Linked DNA regions of Homo sapiens: region 2 is linked to region 1. The links come from fine-mapping of genetic effects on gene expression. A gene starts in region 1. The other region holds a variant in brackets. All regions are shown on one strand. Distances are from middle to middle. Region 1 holds the start of GSTO1 (glutathione S-transferase omega 1). Region 2 overlaps GSTO2 (glutathione S-transferase omega 2).

What was found. PIP is the estimated chance that this variant, and not a neighbour inherited with it, causes the effect.
Region 2: its variant is fine-mapped to the expression of GSTO1 in lung (TOPMed, PIP 0.94).

The regions. Positions count from the first base shown.
Region 1 is chr10:104,249,898-104,258,230 of GRCh38, reverse strand. It overlaps GSTO1 (glutathione S-transferase omega 1), which reads right to left and starts at 3,339. Exons shown (of 6, transcript NM_004832.3): 1 at 3,269-3,339; 2 at 2,960-3,068. The coding sequence starts at 3,302. The region is part of intron 1 of LOC124902497 (a long non-coding RNA gene); the gene reads left to right. RefSeq lists silencers at 2,393-2,442, 2,933-3,192 and enhancers at 3,263-3,322, 3,657-4,171.
Region 2 is chr10:104,272,070-104,280,402 of GRCh38, reverse strand. It overlaps GSTO2 (glutathione S-transferase omega 2), which reads right to left. Exons shown (of 7, transcript NM_183239.2): 2 at 5,454-5,718; 3 at 5,069-5,177; 4 at 2,287-2,509; 5 at 932-1,033. The coding sequence starts at 5,487. Among named protein-coding and RNA genes, the nearest start is that of GSTO2, 7.1 kb to the right of the region's middle. The variant T/C (reference allele first, on the strand shown) is at 4,306.

The DNA.
Region 1 (8,333 bases):
ACTTGATGGTCCTCTGCCTCCTCTGCCTGCCTTTTCCCAGGTCTTCCCAGGTCAAACACACATCCCCAGGCCCTCCCTGACCATAGCTCTGAAGTTGCTGAGCAGCTTCTATTACATGATTATCATGTTTTACTTTCTTCATTGAACTGATAATATGTATCTGAAATTACTTTGCTCACTTATTTACAAGTTTGTTATCTTCCTAGAATGTAAGCTTCACGAAAGGTGGGATCTTGTGTATCTGTTCATAGTAATAAACAAACATGTAAATGAGCAAAATGCTATATAGATATAAATGCTCTGAAGAAAATAAAAAGTTTCAAATAAGGACTCAGTAAATATTTTTGTTTTGAAATATTTCATATAAATGAATGAATAAATCTGTGGAAATGCTTCAAAATTGTCAATAAGATACTCCATTTATGGCTAAGAGGTATCTTAGTTATAAATCATATGAGGCAACTAATTGAATTGTGTCCACTATCCACTATATGAGAACCAACATAAAATTCAATTTATTTTGCTAATTTGAGTAAAAAGTTTCTTGGTTTTTATGAAGATATTAAGGAATCCTTAAAATCCACCCACAAGGCCAGGCTTGGTAGCTTACATCTGTAATCCCAGAACCTTGGGAGACTGCAGTGGGCGGATTGCTTAAACCCAGGAGTTCAAGACCAGCCTGGGCAACATGATGAAACCCTATCTCTACAAAAAATATAAAAATTAGCCAAGTGTGGTGGTACTCACCTGTAGTCTCGGCTACTCCGGATGCTGAGGTGAGAAGATTGCTTGAGCCCTGGAGGCAGAGGTTGCAGTGAGCCATGATTGCACCACTGCATTCCAGCCTGGGTGACAGGGCGAGACCCTGTCTCGAAAAAAAAAAAAAAATCCACCCACAAAATAAGCTTTCAGATTAAATCTCCATGTACTGATTTTTTAAAAAATGTTGTCTGAGTAAATCATACAAAGTAAACCAAAAAGGAAGAAAACAGGTGAAGTCCAGGCTATAGTCAGATTGTATTTAGGTCTATCTTGTATGTTGCCTGAGACTGTAGAGGAACTAAGAGAAAGGAGCTAGGTCCATATGATTGTCAAGGCTGAATAAATGTTCAATAGAACAGATTACTAAAAAAAAAATAGACACCAATACCTTTTGTTTTCTATTTTCCCATCCACAGCTGTAGCTAGAACAGCATTTCATTTGAGGATTTAAATACATAATCCCCCATGTAAACAAAGGAACATCCAATTTGAACATGAGCACAGGTGTGCATGTAATTTAAAAGGTTCATGTGCTGACAATACTGGACACTTAAGTACCAGCCATTGCAAAAAAAAAAAAAATTATTTGGCTCCTTGCCAAAGAATTATCAACATTTTTGAACTATAAAACAAAAACTTTTGTTACTATGAAAACAAAAAGATCCTGGGCTTTTGTTATTTAAAAAAAAAAAAGTATGTCAGAACACACATGAATTTTGGTAAGCTGGCATTGTGAGCCAACAAGTCTACACACCTGCCACAGCAAGTTGGAAGATGCATCTTTTAGAGAAAACCATGCTTTGTTAAGTCATATCATGTGGTTAAAATCTAGTACTTTCCCAGTAAAAGCCTCCTCGGGCTCAAGCTTAAAACTGGTCTATTAATGTAGTAGACCTTTGTTGTTTGCACTGTCTGGAAGCTGTTAACCACTCTCTTCCTCCCCTCTACCCCACACTATTAGGGGAAGATAGTTTCAATGTTCCTTTGGAAAACTGCCCCAGTAAATAAGGTAGGGTTGTTTTCAAACTAAAGGTCCAGGGTGAAGCACATAACCCAGGACTTTGTGCCTCTGAATCCAGCTGTGTCATGCTCCTGGACTTTTCAAATAAATGAGTACCAAAAAATGTCTTTTTTCAATTTTGGTTACATTAGATTTCTCTTAGTACAATAAAAGAGTTCTATCACAGCAAATATGACAGTGTTTTTGAGAAACATTATGAAATAGTAAGTACTCTATGTGTTCAGAATCATAATCTCATCCAAATGAGATGCATTTCTTAGTGAAGTAATGACAAATCCCCTTCAAATGTATTTTTTAAATGCATTTTACCTTTCTTTTAGGGAAAATAATTGCCTACCCCTAAAGATTATCCCCTTAGAAGACTAAAATTAGTTCACAAACACTAAGCACACAGACAGAAAATTCCTTAAGAATAGGGGGTTTGTTTTAAACTTCCACAGAACCTTCCACACCAAAGGTATCTAATAAATGTCTAATCAACAGACATCCAAAGGTCATGGGAAGGGAAGTGGTTCCAATGGATACTTGGTGTCAGAGAAAAGTCAAGTGACTGTTGCACATATCCTGTGGATAGCCCGTAAGTCAAAAACTATGCTAGTTTCAAAACAGGCTCTGCAGAAGGATGAGCTAGACAGACACTTCCCTCTATTTGACTCAACCAACAGCCCAATCCACAGGAATATGTGCAGTAAACTCAGCACTACCCTAGGAGGGTCAGGGTCTAAACTCTGCTGTACTGGGGTAAATTACTATTCTAGGAGGGAACAATACATTCAGAATAACAACTAACAGTTAAGCTGGAATAAGAACGGGAAATCACAATAGGGCGAAAGCGAAAGGACTCTGGACCAGGAATTCGTGACCTACCAAAGCTAAAAGAGCTGCTGCCGGTTATTACCGGGCAAATCACTAACATCACTGGAGCCTCAGCTTTTCTAATCCATTAAATGGTTGGTTAATCTAAATGAGGTGTCCTAGACCGTTGGAATCTGTGGCCTATTTTTCCTAGGGGAATGGCCTATAACTTGCTATTTTCCAAAGGGCCGAGAATAGTTTAATGTGCAGTAAAGGACGCTGGTGGGAGGGGGGTAGAAGGGGGCTGAGACCCCACCCCACCCCGCCGCCTGCAGCAGGCTCCCGGACGGCTCGGGGAGCGTCCCCCGCCTGGGTGCCCACCTGATTCCCTTGGCCTTCAGGACTAGACGCGTCCTCTCAGCAAACGGGCAGAACCTCATGCTGTAGATGCGGATCGAGCCCTCCGGGACCGGCCCCGGGGGCGCGCTTCCTGCCGGGGAGAAGCGAAGGCGATTACGGCCCAGAGAGGTGTCGAGACCCCCCGTATCCCACCGCCCCCGCGTCCCACTGCAGCTCCGACCCGTTCCCCGCCGGTGGGGCGCTCCCGGGCGGCTGGGCTCCCGGAGCAGCCTCGAACATGCCGCCGGGGGTCGCCGAGATCACCCCCTCTTCGCGGCGGGCAGGCCTCACCCTTCCCCAAGCTCCTGGCTGACTCCCCGGACATCGTGGCGCAGCGCAGGCCGAGCTCCTCTGGGGTTTGCAGGGGATTCAGGAAGTAGGTGGCGCGTCCTTCCCGCCCTCCTTCCCTCCCCCGCTTCCTCCTTAGCTCAAAAGTGCCTGCCCCCGGCGGCCGCCAGCTCCACCCGTTGTGCCTTCCCGGCTTTATGGGATAGCCCTTAAAACATCTTAAGGGGCTGTGTCAAAGCATCTCGCTGGCCAAGGGCTGCACCCACGGGGAGATACACAAAAGTTATAAATGCTCAGTCATCCCTCCGCCCCCGAACGAAGGGGTCACCACTCCGCACTCCACGGGGCTCCACGTCTGACCCTGACCCTGACCTCCCTCCCGTGACACTGACCTCGAAGCACCACCCGCTCCGTCCCAAGGCTTCACGACTTCAGAGCCTGTGGCCCGACCTCATGGCTCACTCACCGGTCCAGAGCGTTCTCTCCAAAGGCTCCTGTTCAGCTTGTGAAGGGAAAATAAAAATCTCTTGACTCCAAACTCACTATGCCAAAGGGAAGAGTCAAGCTTGGAAACTGAGTCAGGCAACACTGCCTCCCATTTTGTTGCTAAATAGCTACAAAGATCAAAGGCCACACACCTCCCCAAGGAAATTCCTTGTTGGCCCGCAAGATCTTTACTCTAAAACAGATCAGTTGAATTTCATCTTGGCAATGTAAACTAACAGCTTATCTTCCCAAGTATGGGACAAAGACAGGTCTAGGAGTCATCCTTCCTCTCGCTGGAGAAAAATGCAATTTGACCGCTTCCTCTACCCTATATTTAATCTTGTAAAAATGCAGATTCACCAAGCACTAGACGAATGCATAACTGACTATTCCTCTACGACCTCCTTTCACGAATGTAACATGCGCATTCAGTGAATGCTGATCAAAGGCCCCAAAGAATGCAACTACTCTCCCCTTTTATCTACCTTCCCTTTTTACTTTCCACTTTCCCCTACTGCCTGCTCTTTCCCTTTAAATATTGAAGTCCTCAAGCCCTCTTTGGAAAGAGCACAGATCACAGATGTTCCTGTGATTTTGTGTTCCTTTTTCTCAGATGTGTCCTCAACCTTGGCAAAATAAACCTCTAAAAGGATTGAGACTCACCTTGGTCATTTCCTTTGATTTACAAGCTCATCTATGCCTCGCTGCAGGGTTGCCCAGCCACCTGGACAGGCTTTTCCTTTTTCTGTCAGTACTAGCTTAACGTGACTACTGGGAGGGCCTCTGTCCCTACCGTCACCTGTAGGATACATCCTTTTCATTTTAACCCATAGGAGACAGCACAAACCTGGATATTATCAACCTCAGAATAATGGTGCTGCTTTCAAAACTCTCCCACTTATTAAACATTTGTGTTTTGGAGCCCTGGTAATATAACAGTACTCCCATTTTTCTAAGAGATAGAGGATGAGTTATTTTTTACATTATTTATTTCTCCCATCTTCTCTGTTTCCTCCTTTCTCCCTGTTCCCCACTTCCTACTTAGCTCTTTAGAAATGCAATTATCATCTTTTACCTTCCCTTCACCTGACACTCCCTACAGGGCAAGCTTATCTAACTGGGTGTTTACTTAAAAGCTCCAGAGCAGGACTCTCACCCCCCAGGAGACTGCCTCCAGAGATAACAGTCCATTTACATCCAAAAGTATGCCTGAGACAAGGCCACTTTACAAATGACTTCTGCCCATGATGGCACAACCCAGCAGATAAAGCACCAAAGTGAGTCATGCGAACCCCCACCCACTCGCTCCCTCCCCAGCATGCAGTTCATACCAACTGCCCCCTTTAAAAGCCCCTGCTTTCTGCCCCAGAAGCAAAGTGGTACCCTTAAGGCAGGAAGCCTGTTTTGCTCCCCCTAAGCTAGCTTTGGAATAAAAAATCACTTTCTTTATACCAGACTTTGCTCTTCTTATTAATAATTGGACTCTGAAAGCGGGAAGCAACTGAACCTGCATTTCAGTTACAATAAGGGCACAGGCTCAGAATCAAGCAGGTGGCATGAGTGAATTTAGTTTTGGGTCTGGGAATAAAGGTCTGGCCAGAGAGTCCTCTCAAACAGCTCTTTTAACTTAGGGGTCAGGAAAGAGGGGTTCCAGGGCCATCATACAGATGAGGAAAAAGACTATTCAATGATTTCCTTGTTTGCCTAGATTTGAAAGCTGGTAACTCCTGTGCCATTTATTGGGGTGAGATTGGGGTAGATGTCTATTTTTATTTTGATTAGCCCTATTATGGGAGGAGCAGAGAATGAGGTGAAAAGCACCAAGTGTTGGAGCACCCTGCCTGTTTTGATCCTGGCTCCACCCCTGTATTCAGTTGCTAGGACTAGGGTAACAAAGTACTGCAGAGTGGCTTAAATAACAGAAGTGTGTTGCCTCACAGTTCTAGAGGCTACAAGTCCAAGATGAAGGTGTCAGCAGGGTTGCTGCCTTCTGAGGAGGGAGTCTGTGAGGGAGTCTGTTCCATGCCTCTCTCCCAGCTTCTAGTGGTTTGAGGGAATCTTTGGTGTCCCTTGGAGTGCAGAAGCACCACCCACCCCATCTGTGCCTTCATCTTCATTCACACTCCAGTATGACCTCATTTTAATTTAGTTACATCTGCAACAACCCTATTTCCAAATAAGGTCACATACTGGGGCACTGGGGATTAGAACATCAATGTATGAAATTGGGGGAGCACAATTCAACCCGTAACAACCACTTATTAACTGTGAACATGGGGAAGTCACTAACCTCAGTGTGTTTCAGTTTCCTCACCTGTAAAATAAGATGGAACACATGTTATTCCTCCTGCATAGATGTTACGGGAAAGGGGTCCTGATCCAGACCCAAGAGAGGGTTCTTGGATCTCGCATAAGAAAGAATTCAGAGCGAGTCCACCGTGCAAAACAAAAGCAAGTTTATTAAGAAAGTAAAGTGGTGAAAAAACAGCTACTCCATAGACAGAGTAGGGTGTTCCCGAAAGTAAGAGGACGAAGGCGTCCACCCCAGGTTCAATGCCTGTATATATAGGATGAAAAAAAGATATGGGGAGATGTGCTCTTTTTGTGATAAAGGGTTAATTTTCATAATTACTATGTTTTGCAAGAATCAATATTATTATCTTTAAAGCAAAATTAGGAATGCCTTTGTTCTCAAGATATCGGGATATCTGGACACTCCTAAGTCTGGGTCTGTTTAGTAAACATTATCAATCTATTCCCTTAACCATAAACATCTAGAGGCTAGGAATACCTAACTTTCTGGGAATGCGGCCCAGCAAGTCCCAGCCGCATCTTCCTAGCCCTCACTCAAGATGGAGTCGCTCTGGTTCAAACGTCTCTGACATAGAGTCTGTGGCAGGATTAAATTAGTTACTATACAGAAAGCACTCAGAGCAGTGCTTGGCATAGAATATGTTAAATAAATGTGATCACTACATATTTTGATTTAATTTAGTAAATAGGCAAGAAATAGATATAAATTTTTAAAAATCGACCACATTTTTGCTAAAATATGGGCACTGCTTAACTCTTTTTAAGGATATTGACTTTTTAGCACATTAATGACTTCATGCAAATAACCTTGTAAATTGAAACTTGGCAAGGTAAAACTTCTGAATGGCCAAAAAAAAATTTCACATCAAGGTATTACTTTAAAAGTTTTACTTGGAATGCCCTGTCCCCTAATTTAGTATGAATAATGTAATATTTTATTGCAATGATTTGAAAGATCCACCTCATCAATAAATAAAGTAAAAGGTTAATTCCTCAAAGAAAGAAATTGAAAATATACTCTCCCAGTGAACTACCGTACTATATTACTGGTGTGCATTACAATAGGTCCTCTCCAAGTCCTTTGTGGTTGTGTAAACATCTGAATATACACCTGAGGAAAGAATAGAACTTTCATCTGAGGAATGTGAGCCATTTCAAATTATTAGGCCCAAAGAGACATTAAAATGAGACAGCAATCATGCCCCACTCCCCGCTTCGAGCTATGTATTCACCTCTTGAAACTGCTTGTTATAGCCACAAGTAGCTATAAATTAACCTAATAATGCTACAGCAAATATAACCCACAGTCTATAGCTTAACAATGTGTAGCCAGCTACTAATCAATGTTATTTCTGTAAACCAATGAGAATTCCTGACAGACAACTCTATGTCAGCCCACTTCCTGAAGCCCCTTTTTGCCTTTAGAAATCCACTTGTAACTGCTGCTAATGAGAGTATCTATTCAGAGCAACTTGAACCTATACTCCTGGGTTGCAACCCTCAACCTTGGCTCAAATTACCTAATTGCATTAATTTTGGTTCACCCTCTTCCTTTTATGTTGACATGCTGCCCATAGCCACAGTTAAAAGGAAACAATACATGCGTTTTTACAACTACATTTCTTAATAACCTAAGAGACTAATCTGAGAGGATTCTGCTGGTTAAAGATCAAGAGTTCATGCCATTGCACTCCAGCCTGGGCAACAGAGTGAGTGAGACTTTGTCTCAAAAAAAAAAAAAAAAAAGAAGAAGCTTGAATAGAAAAAAAATTGAGGGGATATTAAAAGTCCATTGAAAGAAGAATGGATAAATTGTGTTGTATTCATATAATGGACATCTACCCAACAATGAAAACAAATAGTCTACAGCTATAGTTATCAACTTAAATCCCTCTCAAAAACATGATATTGAGCCAGAATAGCAAGTCACAATAATATATATGGTATGATTCTACATGTGTTAACTTTAAAAACAGGCAAAGTGAAACAGCACATTAGTTATGGCTCATGCATACATGGTAGAATTGAAAAGCAGGGAACAATAATCACAGAATTCAGGATGGTAGCTACATCCAGGGGAAAGGAAGGGAATGGAAAAGGGTGGGTGCATGATGTAGGGAGGTGCTTCCAGGGTATTGGTTCCCTTCTGTTTCTTCAGTTGGAAGGTGGCTTCTAGAGAATGGCATTGAGATGGGAAAGGATCAGGTGGGGAGAAATGAGGTGGCGACTGCTGTCATTTGAAAAGCTTTCTATTCACTTTGATTTTTTA
Region 2 (8,333 bases), 22 kb before region 1:
ATTTGCCATTTTTTTCTTTATATTCTCCTTTTCAGAGCCTGGAACTTGGATGTGATGGCTGCAGTGACAGCAGCTATCTTGTTATTTTGAGGATGATACCCTTGTACTAAGTTGTGCTAAGGATGACAGAGCCCATAAAGAGAAAAAGCTTCAGTTCCTGATAATGTCATGAAGAAGCCATCAAGATAGGCCTGAACTGCCTACCTCTGGCTTTTTTTTTTTTTTTTTTTTTTTTTTGTCAGTCCTACTTACTCTGTCACCCAGGCTAGAGTGCAGTGGTGCAATCATGGCTCACTGCAGCTTTGACCTCCCAGACTCAAGCAATCCTCCTGCCTCAGCCTCCTAAGTAGCTGGGACTACAGGTATACATCGTTATGCCTGGCTAATTTTTAAAATTATTTTTGTAGAGGAGGGGTCTTGCTATGTTGCCTAGGCTGGTCTTAAACTTCTAGGCTCAAGTGATCCTCCTGCTTCAGCCTCCCCAAGTGCTGGGATCACAGGTGTGAGCCACCGTATGTGTGAGAATAAACCCTTATAATACGTGAGAAAGAATGTTATGTGAGAGAGTAAACCCTTACAACATGAATTTACAGTAGTTAGACTTCAGCAGCCAAACACAACCCCTAACCTTTACAGACCTTGACCTCATTGGCAGAAGCTACAGAAGCCATGCAGAGCTACTCAGGGAGATGGGGTGACTCTGGGAAAGGAAGCAATTCATGGCATGTCCTCCCCAACTCCTCATCAGATTTTCCAGAATAATTCTAGACCAGGTTAGAGGAGGGCAAACATGCAATCAGATGATCAGAAGTCTGACTTATCAAAGGCAGAAAGAATAAGCCTGTGAAAGCTGGTGTTAGAGTGACCAGGTTAGCGACCCTGCCTAGCTTCCTCCACTGTAGCTGACCAGGAGAGGGACCCCTTTTTGTACCTCTTCCAGGTTGCTGAATTCCTGACGCAGGGCTGCCTTCAGATTAGTGCATTCTCTCCCACATCTCAACGCTACCAGGCACTCCTTGGTCAAATGTGGGACCTAATCAGAGGACACAGGTTCTCAGTGGAGAAGTCTGTGGAAACTTCCAGTTCCTGTTCTGCCTGAAAAGGCAGCGAAGCTTTATAACTCCAGCCTAACAGGGCAACACCCACATCAGACCCCCCAGCTCCCTGTGAGAGGCACTAGGTTTTCTCTGTGGTTCCGGTTCTCAGTAGGAATCTACTTCTTATAGTACCCTGGGAAAGCAGGGTGCTTTAGGAGGGTTTCTCCAGTGCTCCTTACTTGATCAGCTGCTTCCATGCTATACATTCTTAGGTGGGACACTCAACCTCTCTAAGCCTCAGTGTTCTCATCTGAAAAATGGATACGATAGCAGTACCCACTTCAAAGGGCAGTTGGATTAAATGAGTTAGCTCCTACAAAGTAACTAGGACAGTGCCTGGCACATCATAAGTGTTCGATATATGTCAGCTGTTAATATCATTGAGGTTTTTAAAAATTCCTTTTCAAAGACACCATCTTAAAATTTCTCCATTCTTTTTTCTTTCATTATCAAAGCTGCCACCATTTATCTATTCTTCACATTTCCTGGACAGCAGGCACTCTTATGCTTCTAAAGAGCATCACTGGCCAGGCACAGTGGCTCACGTCTGTAATCCTAGCACTTTGGGAGGCCGAGGCAGGCAGATCACTTGAGGTCAGGAGTTCAAGACCAGCCTGGCCAATATGGTGAAACCCCATCTCTACTAAAAATACAACAATTAGGGGGTGTGGTGGCATGCGCCTGTAATCCCAGCTACTCAGGAGGCTGAGGCAGGAAAATTGCTTAAACCCAGGTGGCAGAGGTTGCAGTGAGCCGAGATGGTGCCACTGCACTCCAGCCTGGGTGACAGAGCGAGACTCCGTCTCAAAAAAAAAATAATAAAAAAGCATCACCTTCTATGCATAATCTTCGCACTCCATTACTTTTTACCTGAAGCTGGAGAAATACTCCCTTTAAGGATCACCAGTTTTCAGTTCTTTCAGTATTCCTGCTTCAAGTTACACGGTCATTGCCATGTCATAACCATACCTCCTGAGCCTGCCAGTTGAAATGGAGAAGCGCCTAGCAGTTAAGCCTTTAATATCAGTGGCCATGCTCTACCCTAATTCCATGCTAGCTAATCTCCTGAGGATCACATGGTATCAAAACAAAACAGTTTCACCAATGATTTGGCTTTAAAATGGGTTGAGGTTTGGGAAAGACATGCAAAGTAAAATACAGTGTGAGTGACTTTTTAAATTGAATATACCTTACAAAATAGCTCCAATAACATCTTTTGGCGAGCTCGTTCATAAGGGTCATATGGAAACAGCTTCCTTCCTGGATAAGCATCATCCAGGTACTCACAAGCAATAACAGATTCATAGATCAGTTGACATTGGCTGGTCTCCAGGACAGGAATGTGGCCAAAAGGGTGCTTTGTATAGTACCATTCAGGCTTGTTTCTCAGGTTAATGTTGACCACTTCATGTCTTAAAAAGCAAAAGGAAAACAAGACAGAACAAAAATGAGAGGCATCTGCAGGCAGGCACTCTTCTTGAAAGCAGAAGCAATCAGTTTAAAAGTTAAAATTTGCAATTAGTGTTTTAAGGTTTAAGTTTTGTATAAAATACATAACATCATCATCTTCCTTCCTGCAGTAAGATGTGTCGGATGTTTTCCATGCCTTATCTCAGTTGTTCCTCATAATTCCCCCTGAAGTAGGCTCACCTCATAGGAAAGAAGACTCAAGGGGGTTGAATCTCACACCCAATACCACCCACTAAGAAGTAGTAGAGCTGGCCGGGCGCGGTGCCTCACACCTGTAATCCCAGCACTTTGGGAGGCTGGGGCGGGCAGATCATCTGAGGTCAGGAATTCAAGACCTGCCTGGCCAACATGGCAAAACCCCATCTCTACTAAAAAATACAAAAAAGTAGCCAGGCATGGTGGCGGGCGCCTGTAACCCCAGCTACTTGGGAGACTGAGGCAGGAGAATTGCTTGAACCCGGGAGGTGGAGGTTGCAGTGAGCTGAGATTACACCACTGTACTCCAGCCTGGGCAAGAAACTCCATCTAAAAAAAAAAAAAAGTAGTAGAGCCAAGATCACAGCCAGGCAGACAGACTCAGAGCTCACACACTTAACCATGGCATTAGAGAGTTTAGTACATTCTACAGCTTGAAAATACAAATCTGGTATTAACAGGTCACAACAGAATATGGTAAATGTTAACAATTAAGAGTATGAGTTTTGGCATCAGAATAAACGGTCTAGCTTGGGACCTTAACCGAATTCCTAACCTCTCTGTGCTCAGTGTCCTTAATTATAAAATGGGGCTAATAATTACACCCATCTCTTGGTACTGTGGTGGGGATATGTATAAAGTGTTTAGGACAGTGCCTGGCACATAAGCATGCAATAACTTTTTTAATTCTTCTTCTAATTATTAGATGTTCAAATAATACTATTATTATTTAATGTTCACATAATACAATTATTATTTAGATAACTATATAGTTACCAGAAGCATGAACGTATGTTTAAAAACATGAAAGGAAACAAATGGGAACGTTCATTGCTTAGTCTAGGAGATTGTCTTAAACCTACAGCAGAGGCTGGATGAGGTGGCTCACACCTGTAATCTCAGCACTTTGAGAGGCCAGGGTGGGAGGATTGCTTGAGCCCAAGATTTCGAGACCAGCATAGGCCACATAGCAAGACCTAAAGCAGTGGGTCTCAACCTAAAGCAATGGGTCTCGACTAGAAGTGATTTTTGGCCTCCTTCCCAAGGGACATATCACTATGTCTGGAGACATGGTTTTGTTGTCACAACTGAAGGTAGTGCATAGGGAAGGGGGACTCTACTGTCATTGAATGGGTAGAGACCAAGGATACTGCTAAACATCCAGTGATGGACAGGACAGCTTCTATCCCACCTCTCCAACAAAGAATTATCTGGCCTAAACTGTCAACAGTGCCAAGTTTGAGAAACGCTGACCTAAGGAAATACATCAGCTCCTAAGCTGATAATTTATCACCAAATGGGCAAAACATCCAGTTGTTGTTATTTTCCTCAAAAAACAGGTAACCTTAAGGTCAGCTTAATTTGAGCAAAAGGGAAGAATGTGGAAATACAGGCCCTATATACTCAACAAGGCAGATTTACATAATTTTATTTAAAACATCTCTGTATTAGTCTTTGTATCTCTCTGACATGAGTCTGAAACTCTGAAGTCACCCCCTTGTGATGGACTCTCCGAGACAAGAGTCGGGAGCCTGGAGTGACA[T/C]ATTCTCAACACTCTAGCTTGGAGGCCAGCTGCATTATGCAGTCCACATCCCAGCAAAGCTGCTCTGCCCTCCAAATCCAGACCTGCAGGAGCTGGTTTTGCAAACTTCCTTTTGGAAGCATCTGTACCCATTTCTCAAGTTTTCAAGGTGTCTTGAAAACTTCCAGACACCTCTTGATAGCAATTCCTTCTATTTCATTGTTTGGAAAGATTTGTTCATTCATTTAACAGATGTTTTTTGAGCATCCACTATGTGACAGGCTCTCTCCTAGCTCATGAATAAAAGAGACAGAGTTCCTACCCTCGAGAACGCACATGGGTGAAGGGGACTGGGGAGGGGAGATGGATGAACAAATAAGAAAATGCTGGATGCAGTAAGTTCAATAAAGAAAGGAAACAGTGACCTAAGATGCCTGGGGTGTGGTGGGGGAACTACCTCTGTGGAGCAGTCAGGTAAGGCCTCAGTAGTGTTGGCTGTGCCCTTAAACATTCTGGGAGGGAACCAGTTCACCAGCCCCATCATTCACATTACTCTGCGCTGGGCTAGAAGTTTCATGCATAGGCGTGACTCGGAAAAGGGCTCCGCATTTCAGTAGGGCCCGCTAAAAAAAAGCTCGCCCTTTGCTATTTGTTGACTTTGCCTCCGAAAAAAGGGACAGGGAGCCCCTTGTAAAAGCTGAGCAGGGCGCCCCAGATGTTAAACATTCCCGGGCTCCTGTGAGGCGCTGGGTTTGCTCGGGGGCTCTGGGTTCCCGCTTCTCACCTGATGTCTTTGGCCTTGAGGACGAGGCGGGTCCTGTGAGAATAGGGGCAGAACCTCATGCTGTAGATGCGGATCAGCCCCTCCGGGACTGGCCCTGGGGGCTGGCTTCCTGCAGAGCAGCGATGGAGGGGGACAGGGAAAGGAGAGGCTAGTCAGCCCGGTGAGGAAGGAGCTCGCTCACTTGCCCAGATCCCAAGATGGCTGTGGGAGCTCCAACTCCCAAGTCCCAGAGAGGGCAGTGCTGCATGTGGCTTTTCTTCAGGAGAGCCCTCCAAGTCCCTTCCTGCCCCGCCGGTCTGCAGGCCAAGGCCAGGCAGCTCCGCCGAAGCCAACATTTTCTGTCACGCGGCGCCCCCAGCTCGCGGACCCCATGGAGAGCACTCACCTTTCCCCAGGGTCCTGGTCGCATCCCCAGACATGGTCTCCAGGTGGTTTGCGCAGCTCCCGGAGCTCACGGTCGCCGCCCTGTGGCTCGCCACCGCTGCCGCAGGCTCCAGAAACAGCTGCGCTCTGGCGCGCACCCCTTGCCCCAAATTTAATTTTTGAACTACTGGGCTCTGGCGGGGCACGGGGAAGCGATCTGGAGCAGGAGCTAGGGTAATTTAACCTGGGGAGACATCGCCCCAGATTTGGAAGCCCGAGAGTAGGAGCTGGCAAAAAACAAAACAAGACAAAATAACACCAGAAAAGCTCCCCCTTGCTCTGGACATGTGCTTAAAGCTTTGGAGGGGCCTCCTCTACATCAAGAATCCCTCAAGAATGGGCATTTAAACTCCAACATGGATTTCAAAGGAGTTTAATCAAAACTGACTAGGGTAAAGCTGACTTTTTTTTTCCCATTCTGAATCTCTTGCATCACTAAACTGGCCACTCTTTGGTAAGTAAGTACAGCTTTAAAAAATAATAAGGCCAAACATTCTCATGATACAGCAACTAGGAAAGAAAAAGTCATTGGTGTTGAAATCTCACATACCCCAGAGAGTGAGTGCCTCCTAGACACCTAGACAACTTTGGTGTCTAGACAACTCACATTTTGCACCCTAGACACCTCAGTTGCCTCATCCCAGTCCTGGCCCTACTTGTGAGATTTTACCCAAGCTCTGAAAAACTGGCAATGAATAAAATTAAGATACCTGGAGGCAAAGAACAATTTGTGAGCTTCCCCCGTTCCCCAGCATAAATTTTTGAGAACACTCTTACTAGTTGCCAAGGATACATTGCCAACAGCCCAGCCATATAGGGGCGACTTGCACAGCTTTTCTGTTTACGTGAGATAATAGACGTGGCTTTGGCTCTGATGCTGATAAGCTGAGATCCTGAATTTCAGCAGGTAAAAAAATAATTCCTTAAATTTTCCAGAATTGAGCTGATGTGGGAATTGCTTGTAAATGCATTTTGTAGGATTAACAGATCATGAAGGAAAGAAAAATATTTTCTGTGTCTCACTCATACTGACTAAATTATTTCCATAGATTACCTTGATTCCTACAATTGCTCAGTCAGGCAACTCATATTATTTCTACTTTTCAAAACAGAAAACAGCTTCAGAAAAATGAAATTATTTGCCCAAAGTGACCAGCTAGTAGGGTTGAAGAACTTTAAAAGTCCAAAGCTTGACTCGTTGTCTTGACCTTTAAAACTGGTAATAGTGTTAGGAGGAAAGGATTTTAAGTCCAGGAAAAGATATAGCACGTAATGGCTGCTCAACAAATAATACTTGAATCTAAATATCTTTTATTAAAATGACAGAGCCTAATTATGTAGCTTATAACTGGGTACTGTTTGGCCTTTGGAATTCCAGTCTATCCAGAACTTCTTGGTTAATAATAGTGTTAACATTTTTTGCTAGTGAATAAGAATCTTTGCAAATCTTCAGAATAGTGACTCAACTACATTTTTTGCTGTCATTCAATGATTTCATGTGAAATAAGCTTAGATAATAATATGGAAAGTATTAACATTTTATAAGAATCAGGGAATGGCAAAAATGTTTGAATAAATGTTCTCTGAAAATAAAATGCATATATGTCAGCAAGAAATCTGGTGTTGGAGAAGACATATTGGTTCCCGGCTTGCTACGCTGACAACTTTTCATTTAAGAAGACAGAGAAAGTAACAGAGTAACTTCTACTACTTTGGAGCTAATTCTGATCAAGAAGGACAAATTGGATGGTAAAATAGAAGCAAGAAACACAACCATGTCATCTTAGAGCTCCTGGTAGGTAAGATGACTTCTGGGCATACACATGCATCCCTCATATAAAAAAAGCAGATTTCAAGATAGTTGAGAAAAATATATCCATAGCCTAAAAAAGGCCATAAGAGGGTTGCAAAATCTCAAAATCAAAATAAATTATTACTAATATATATTTGGTGCTTCATGTGTATTGACCCAGTTAATTCTTAAAATAGTCCAATAACTGGGCCGGGTGCGGTGGCTCATGCCTGTAATCCCAGCACTTTGGGAGGCCGAGGCGGGCGGATCACGAGGTCAGGAGATTGAGGCCATCCTGGCTAACGTGGTGAAACCCCGTCTCTACTAAAAACACAAAAATTAGCCGGGCGCGGTGGCAGGCGCCTGTAGTCCCAGCTACTCAGGAGGCTGAGGCAGGAGAACGGCGTGAACCCGGGAGGCGGAGCTTGCTGTGAGCCGAGACTGCGCCACTGCACTCCAGCCTGGGCGACAGAGCGAGACTCCGTCTCAAAAAAAAAAAAAAAAAAAAAAAAAAAAAAAAAAAAAAAAAAAAGTCCCATAACTGTTCTATTTTGATTCACTTTAAAAGATGAGTAAACTGAGACTAGCATAGTTAAGCACTTCTCAACTAGTAAGTGAAAGAGGGAGGACTAGGAACCCTGGAAGTTTGACTCCAGCGGCAACAATCTCAACCAGTATCTTAGTCTTTATCAGATGCCATGAACTGAATGATTGGCAAATGTTTTTACATATATTAAATATTTCAGGCTTTTCAGGCCATCTGGTCTCCACTATTTAGTTCTACACTTGTAGTGTAAAAACAGCCATCGATGATAAATAAACAAATGGGTGTGGCTGTATTTATGGACACACTGAATTTGAACTGCATATATGTATTTTAATAGCCTTTTTTTAAAAAAAAGTTTTAGATTCACAGCAAAATTGAGCAGAAAATACACATTTCCCATATACCCTGTGCCCCCGCACATGCACAGTCTCTTCCACTATCAATATTCCAATCAGAGAGGTACATTTATTACAATCAATGAACCCACATTGACATATTATCAC